Homo sapiens: one gene and its partner. The protein of the gene in region 1 interacts with the protein of each later gene in a pairwise test. Each region holds a gene or a part of one and is shown on either strand. Other genes may lie near its edges.

What was found. Proteins that work in one complex are often made in the same cells at the same time.
Region 2: the proteins of VSIR (region 1) and BMP10 interact in binary tests that used the Homo sapiens proteins (3 or more experiments, as listed by UniProt).

The regions. Positions count from the first base shown.
Region 1 is NC_000010.11:71,756,521-71,760,020, reverse strand, and holds part of VSIR (V-type immunoglobulin domain-containing suppressor of T-cell activation precursor), read left to right. Parts: intron 1-3,500.
Region 2 is NC_000002.12:68,864,898-68,868,397, forward strand, and holds part of BMP10 (bone morphogenetic protein 10 preproprotein), read right to left. Parts: intron 1,675-3,500; coding exon 734-1,674; 3' UTR 1-733. UniProt on the Homo sapiens protein: Required for maintaining the proliferative activity of embryonic cardiomyocytes by preventing premature activation of the negative cell cycle regulator CDKN1C/p57KIP and maintaining the required expression levels of cardiogenic factors such as MEF2C and NKX2-5.

The DNA of each region.
Region 1 (3,500 bases):
GTGTGTGTGTATATATATGTATGTGTGTGTGTATATATATGTGTGTGTGTATATATATGTGTGTGTATATATATGTGTGTGTGTATATATGTGTGTGTGTATATATGTGTGTGTGTATATATGTGTGTGTGTATATGTGTGTGTGTGTATATATATGTGTGTGTGTGTGTATATGTGTGTGTGTGTGTGTGTGTGTGTGTATATTTTCTGAAACACGGTTTCACTCTGTTACCCAGGCTGGAGTGCAGTGGCGCGATCTGGGCTCACTGCAACCTCCGCCTCCCGGATTCAAGCGATTCTTCTGCCTCAGCCTCCCGAGTAGCTAGGATGAGATTACAGGCGTGCACCACAATGCCTGGCTAATTTTTGTATTTTTAGTGGAGCTGGGGTTTCACCATGTTGGCCAGGCTGGTCTCAAACTACTGACAAATGATCTAACTGCCTCGGCCTCCCAAAGTGCTGGGATTACAGGTGTGAGTCACCACGCCTGGCCTCAGGAATTTTTTTTTTTTTTGAGAAAGACTCTCTCTCTGTCACTCAGGCTGGAATGCAGTGGTGCAATCACAGCTCACTGAAGCCTCAAACTTCCAGATGCAAGTGATCTTCCTGCTTCATTCTCCCAAGTAGCTGGGACTACAGGCACGCATCACCATGTCTGGTGAATTTTTAAAAATTATTTTTGGGGTTAGGTGCGGTGGCTCACGCCTGTAATCCCAGCACTTTAGGAGGTCAAGGCAGGCAGATCGCTTGAGGCCAGGAGTTCGAGACCAGCCTGGCCAACAGGGTGAAACCCCATCTCTACTAAAAACACAAAAATTAGCCAGGCATGGTGGTGCACGCCTGTAGTCCCAGCTACTCAAGAGGCTGAGGCAAGAGAATCGCTTGAACCCGGGAGTCAGAGGTTACAGTGAGCCGAGATCGCGCCACTGCACTCCAGCCTGCTGATAGAGCAAGACTCCATCTCAAAAAAAAAACAACCCAAAATTTGCCTGGCATGGTGGCAGGCATCTGTAATCCCAGCTACTCGGGAGGCTGAGACATGAGAGCTGCTTGAACCTGGGAGGCAGAAGTTGCAGTGAGCCGAGATCACACCACTGCACTCCAGCCTGGGTGACAGAGCGAGACTCTGTCCCAAAAAATCAAAAAAATCACTTTTGGTAGAGATGCACTCTCGCTATGTTGCCCAGGCTGGTCTTGAACTCCTGGGCTCAATTGATCTTCCCACCTTGACCTCCAAAGTGCTGGGATTACAGGTGTGAGCCACCATGCCTAGCCTCAGGGAATTCTTATAAGAACTCTATGAAGTAGGCATCACCATCTTCTCTGTATCCATGGAAAGAGAGGCCTAGAGATGTATGCTAACTTGCCCAAGCTCACATAGCCCAGGGTAGCATAGCTGGGATCTGGCTGCAGGCCTGCTTAGCTCTGCATACTCACCTTCTTCCCAGCTTGGGGCAGTGCAGTGGGTAGCAGTTAGCCCCCCGGTGCTTGCCAGAGAGGTGCCCTACAGGGTAAGAGGGCACTGCCCTAAGGGTGCCTGGCGCTGAGAGGTTGGGTGAGAATACCCAGCAGCTTGGAGACAAAATGCAAGGGCACCTCCCTCTTCTGAGAAGAGGTCTTGGCTTCCACACCCCTCTATACCCTGTATGTGTCAGACATCCAGTGGGGACCAGCCCCTGCTAGGCCCTGGAGATACAAAGGCATCCAGGAGGACATGCACGAGGACCTAAGCCGGAATGGGGATCAGCTAAACCACGGACCCAACAAAACCCAACTCAAAGGCTACAGTGACTTTTTACTCAGCTACCCTTTTTTCAAACCAACAAACAGGCCAAGAGCAAAATTAGAACATGCATTTTGGTCAGAGCCATGTTGGTCAGGCTGGTCTCGAACTCCTGGGCTCAAGTGATCTACCCGCCTTGGCTCCCCAAAGTGCTGGGATTACAGGATTGAGCCACTATGCCCAGCCCCAGTGCCAGCCTCTTAATGTTATCCTTGGGAAGTAAGAGTGTAGCTTGACTATGAAATAACATGAAAGTACAAGTTAACCTGAGGTAGGGGAATGAGACTAGAGAAGTTGGTGCCCAAGGAGCTCCTGCATTGCTGAGGGGCTGTGGTTTCTCAGTGAGCTCAGAGAAGGGGTCTAGGCAGCTCATCTCCCTTTGAACTTCTTCCCACCCCCCAGCGCAGCAGAATGTGCTGTCTGCTTTCACCCAGCTTCCTCCCTGGGAAACCAGGCAGCCCAACCCTCAGCAGCCGAACTCCCTCCTCCATATATCCCCGTGGGCTACCAGGCAGGCCCTGGACAAAGGCCGCCTGAGCAGGCCAGGCCCCTCCCATCCCACCCTGCTGTGTCAGGGCCTGGCACACTCCTTAGTGCGGTGTCGGCAGCTACCTCTGCCAGCGCCTGATCACCTTCCCAGGATAAGCCTGGCTCTGGATGGTGAGTGAGTATGCCTGCCTTCCCCTGTGAGTGCCAGCCCAGGCACTGGCCACGCTTGGGGGAAGGGGTGGGGAACTGTGGCGAGGCTGAGCTCTGCAGAGATGCCTACGGCTTCAGAAAGCAGCTGGATCCACAGACTTGTCCCCAAACCTCTGCGCCCCTCTGCCCCAGCCTCAACTCAGCCCAGATCGTAAGGAAGCCTCAGGCTCTCAAAGTGAAATTAAGTCCTGATCTGATAGAGGGTCCACATAGGGGAAATCTCTACCTGGGGATAGAAGTTAGGCAGGGATATCTGGCCAAGCTCACCCTCCAAAGGCAGATAGGGAACAGGTATCAATGAGCACCTGGCAAAGCTCACAAAATGTTGCTTACTAGCCGTCCAGAGGAGACCTGCTTTGATCACTAGAAGAGAGTGCTTTGCAACTGGCTTCTCAAATATTGCCCACAATAAGGTCCTTTGATGGGGGTTTTGAAATACTGAGGTGTCTGGGTTATAGAATGTCTTTACTTTCAATATTCCACGTCAAAATGCAGCCTTGCTAAGATCTGCAGGGAACCTGCTGTAATGTGGAGCGGAACTTGCTTTGTAATTAGCATAGCAACTGTTCCTGTACCAGTGGGTACTTCTAAAGTGACTGAAAACAGTTTGTTCTCATTTGCAGTATGAACAAACCTCCTGAAAGCTTGTTTACGCTGTCGGATTGTAGAGCAAAACAAAAACAGCCTTTATTCCCAAACAAATAGCGGAAAGGCAACATTTAGACCACAGCCATTTACCTCTCAGAGCTCTTTGGGGCGAAGTTGACACTGTGACAAGGTATCCCAGCCCATCTTTTGGCCCTGGGAAAGGCTAAAATTGGGAAGGAAATGCGTTTATGTTGGTTGTGGTTCTGAGGGCACGTCTGTTCCCAGCTAAACTCCTGCAGTCAGCAGATGCCCTGAAATAAATCAAACCTCCTCATGCTGTTGGGACAGCGAAGCTTCGTGTACACCTTTTTGGAGGGCAATTTAGCAATAGCCTAAAAGAAAATGCACATACTCTTTGGCTCAGCACTTT
Region 2 (3,500 bases), on another chromosome or scaffold:
TTCCTATTGTCTCAGGAACAGATTTCATGCTGGTTTCTTCTGTTTTCCTGCCTTGACCAGGAGTTGCCCTCTGGAGCACATTGGTCCTCCATGGGTTCATTTTTTCCTGTTGTACCTCTAAGACCTCTTAAGTCCATTTGGTTTCTGTATCAATTAACCCTTCCCTTCAAGCATCCTTTGCCAGGCCCCTCCTCTCTGAGCAACTACAGAAACTCAACTGACAAAAGCTACACTTACATTTCCAGAGTATTTAGGAAGGGTAATACTTCCTAGGATGATTAAAACCCTGATGTCAATTATCTTGACTTAAATCCTACTCAGAGAAGAGGTAACAGAGAACATACCATTGGCCTTTAATATGCATACATTTGAGTGAGTCATGCATGTAGATGAGTATAACCTGCCTGCATAGAACCAAAAGATTTTTGTAAGTTCATGTATGTACAAATATACATACACAAGTGTGTGTCTTTTGACACTGTATTTTGCCTAGGGGTTGTTTTCAAATCAACAGGGAGGTGGCATTGCCAGGAAATGGCAAGTCCAAAGAGAAAACAGATTGAAAGGGACTTAACTGGAGAGGAAAATATGCATTTCCTACAACAAACTGACCTGTCCATTTCCTGAAGGCAGCAAGCCTCTATTACTGTACACCCTTATTAAATAATCTCATTAAATAGGAACACCAAATATACACATTTACAGTTATTAAATAAGCCATAGGACTCTTCTTCTATCTACAGCCACATTCGGAGACGGCCATGCCTTCGTATTTAAACTTGTAGGTGACGACGCCTTTGTCTAAATAGAGGATGGAGATGGGCTCTAGCTTTGTGGGCACACAGCAGGCTTTGGAAGCTTTCTGGGAATTCTTGAGGTGGACCAAGGCCTGGATAATTGCATGCTTTGTGGGTGTGAGATGCTCTGCCAGGGGGTAGTTACAAACACCACGGCATTCATAGGCTTCGTATCCAGGCGGAGCGATGATCCAGGAGTCCCACCCAATCTCCTTGAAGTCGATGTAGAGCGGGGTCCTCTTACAGTAGTTTCCTTTGGCGTTCCTTCTGATTCGGGCAGTGGAGTCATAGATGATGTTTGATCTCATCTGCAACAAAGCCTCTTCCCCAGGTCCACTGGAAAAGCTATCCAGGCCCAAGTTGTCCAGCTCTGGAAGTTGCTCATGGGAAATCATTTCATTCAGTTCCTCCTTCCTCTCCTTGTCACTGCTTTGGTCATCAGAAAACACGATGAGCAAAGGGTTATGCTTATTCTGGGCACTGGTATCTATTTCTAGCCGTCCACTGCTGGCATCCTCAGCTTCATCGTGTTTGCTCTCAATGTGGACCTCCAGCTGGTGGGTGGATGAGCCTGACTTTTGCCAACGTCTGATGGCATCTGTGACATCAAAAGTCTCCCACTCACTGTTGGTTCCATATATCTCCCCAGACACCAAGACCAGCATGTTTCTTTCTCCCTCATTATCCCCTTTGCTCTCCAGCACTTCAAAAATGGTAATTTTCCGGTCTACTCCATCGTATATCATACGATCCCTTTGCACCAGTGTGTATAGCCTAAGTTCAGCCATGATGACCTCTTCATGGTGAGGAATGGACACATTGAAGAGGAGGGGGTATTTTCGGAGCCCATTAAAACTGACCGGCTGGGAAAACAGATCTGAAAAAAGAAATTTGCAAAAATCAGGTTTGCAGTGGGTCTCAGGGAAAAACAGATGCTTATTTATGTAATAAGAAGGCCTTCCCATGCACAAAGCTTAATGCAGAAAGAATGAAGGGAGAAAATCAATGAGAACAAACACAATGTCAGCATTCTGTGACACAGGAAATCCCAAAAGGTCAGTGGTAGAATGCCCAAAAGAGTTCAGCTGCCAAGACTAAAATGGAAAATGGGGGTCTAATGGATGGCATAAAACTCAGCCAACCTTGCTTGAATAGCTCATCAGCCACAGAATTACAGAACTGGGAGGGACCTTGGAGATTGTGTGGGCAAGTCCCCAAATTTCCTAACAAACAAAACGCCACCAAATGGGACATGTGGTGATTGTTCCTTTCTTGAAGCTTTTCGGGGATGAGGACTTCATGGTTTTTTAATATTTGTGTTTGTAGTGGGTGGAGATCCCCGCACAGTTGGCTGGACACTGGTCTTCCTAAAAGACCTCCATTTAGATCAGAGGTTGGTAAACTATAGCCTATGGGCCAATATGGGCCTGCTACCTGCTTTTGGAAATAAAGTTTTATTGGAACACAGCCTCATCCATTGTTTTTGTATTGTCTGTGGCTACTTTTGCACTATAATGGCAGAGTTAAATAGATACAACAAAGAACATATAGCCTGCAAAGCTTAAAATAGTTATTATCTGTCTGGCCCTTTACAGTAGAAACTTGCTGACTTCTGTTCTAGGCAACAAAGCCTGACAAGGCCAATAAGACAGCCATAAACCAAGAGGGTCTCAGCAATTGACTGCTGGTTATATGGTTCTCTATAAAGAGGAATGGGAGAAAATGAATCCTGGGACTAGATTGGTTGCCTTAGTCTTGTACCCCTAGCACCTGGCATGGGGCGTGACATGTATAACTCACTCAATAATGTTTATGAATCAACTCTGTAAAAGTCCTTTAGTCTTAGAAGCATACTTCCAAATACGATCATGTTGACTTCCTATCTGAATATTTCACAGTGAGCCCAAAGCTCCTGCACACTTGCCTCAGGTAATGAGTCTACAAGGAAGCCCTGAAGGCATTTGCCATCAGATTATCAAAGGACTCCATGGCACCGAAGATGCTAAGGACCACCAACTGGGGGTTCTCTGTCATCATTGGCAGCATTTCCCCAAGTTTATACTTAGTTCATGATCTCGGTGAGTCCCTGTTTCAGATTATAATCTTTTAATATTTTTCTTTAATTTGATCTAATTATTTTATACTTATTATCTATTTTAGACTGTTCCTAAGCAACATAATTCATTAAAGGAGAGATTTGAGGTGATATTTATGTGTGTTTGCTAAAAATCCATACTAAGAAAAATATACAATAATTTCACATGATTAATAGCTTTCTTTGGGTACCACCTAAATTAATCTTACACACTGCTAGTGGGAAATGCTGACCTACAGAATAAATTTAAACTCCCTGGCATGGCTCTCAAGACCAGCTATATCTGGGTCTTAACCTCCTGATCAGCCATAGCTTACATACGTCCTCCACAGTGCATGGAACATTGTGATTACTCAATAATATTTGTGAACAATTGAATGGATTTGTAAACCCTTCTGTTTTAACTACATTGATATCTTTACCACCTGTCAAAACACTCTTTTTTTCCCTGCAATTTTCACCTTTTCACATGTTCTTCTGACCCTTGGAAAGCCCTTTCACCTCACCTCCACCTATCCAGCTCTGACATCTCCTATAAAAGCCTCCCTTACTTCTCATCTGAAAGTTCCCTCCTCTCCCCTCTGAAATCATTTGATCACTTTATATCT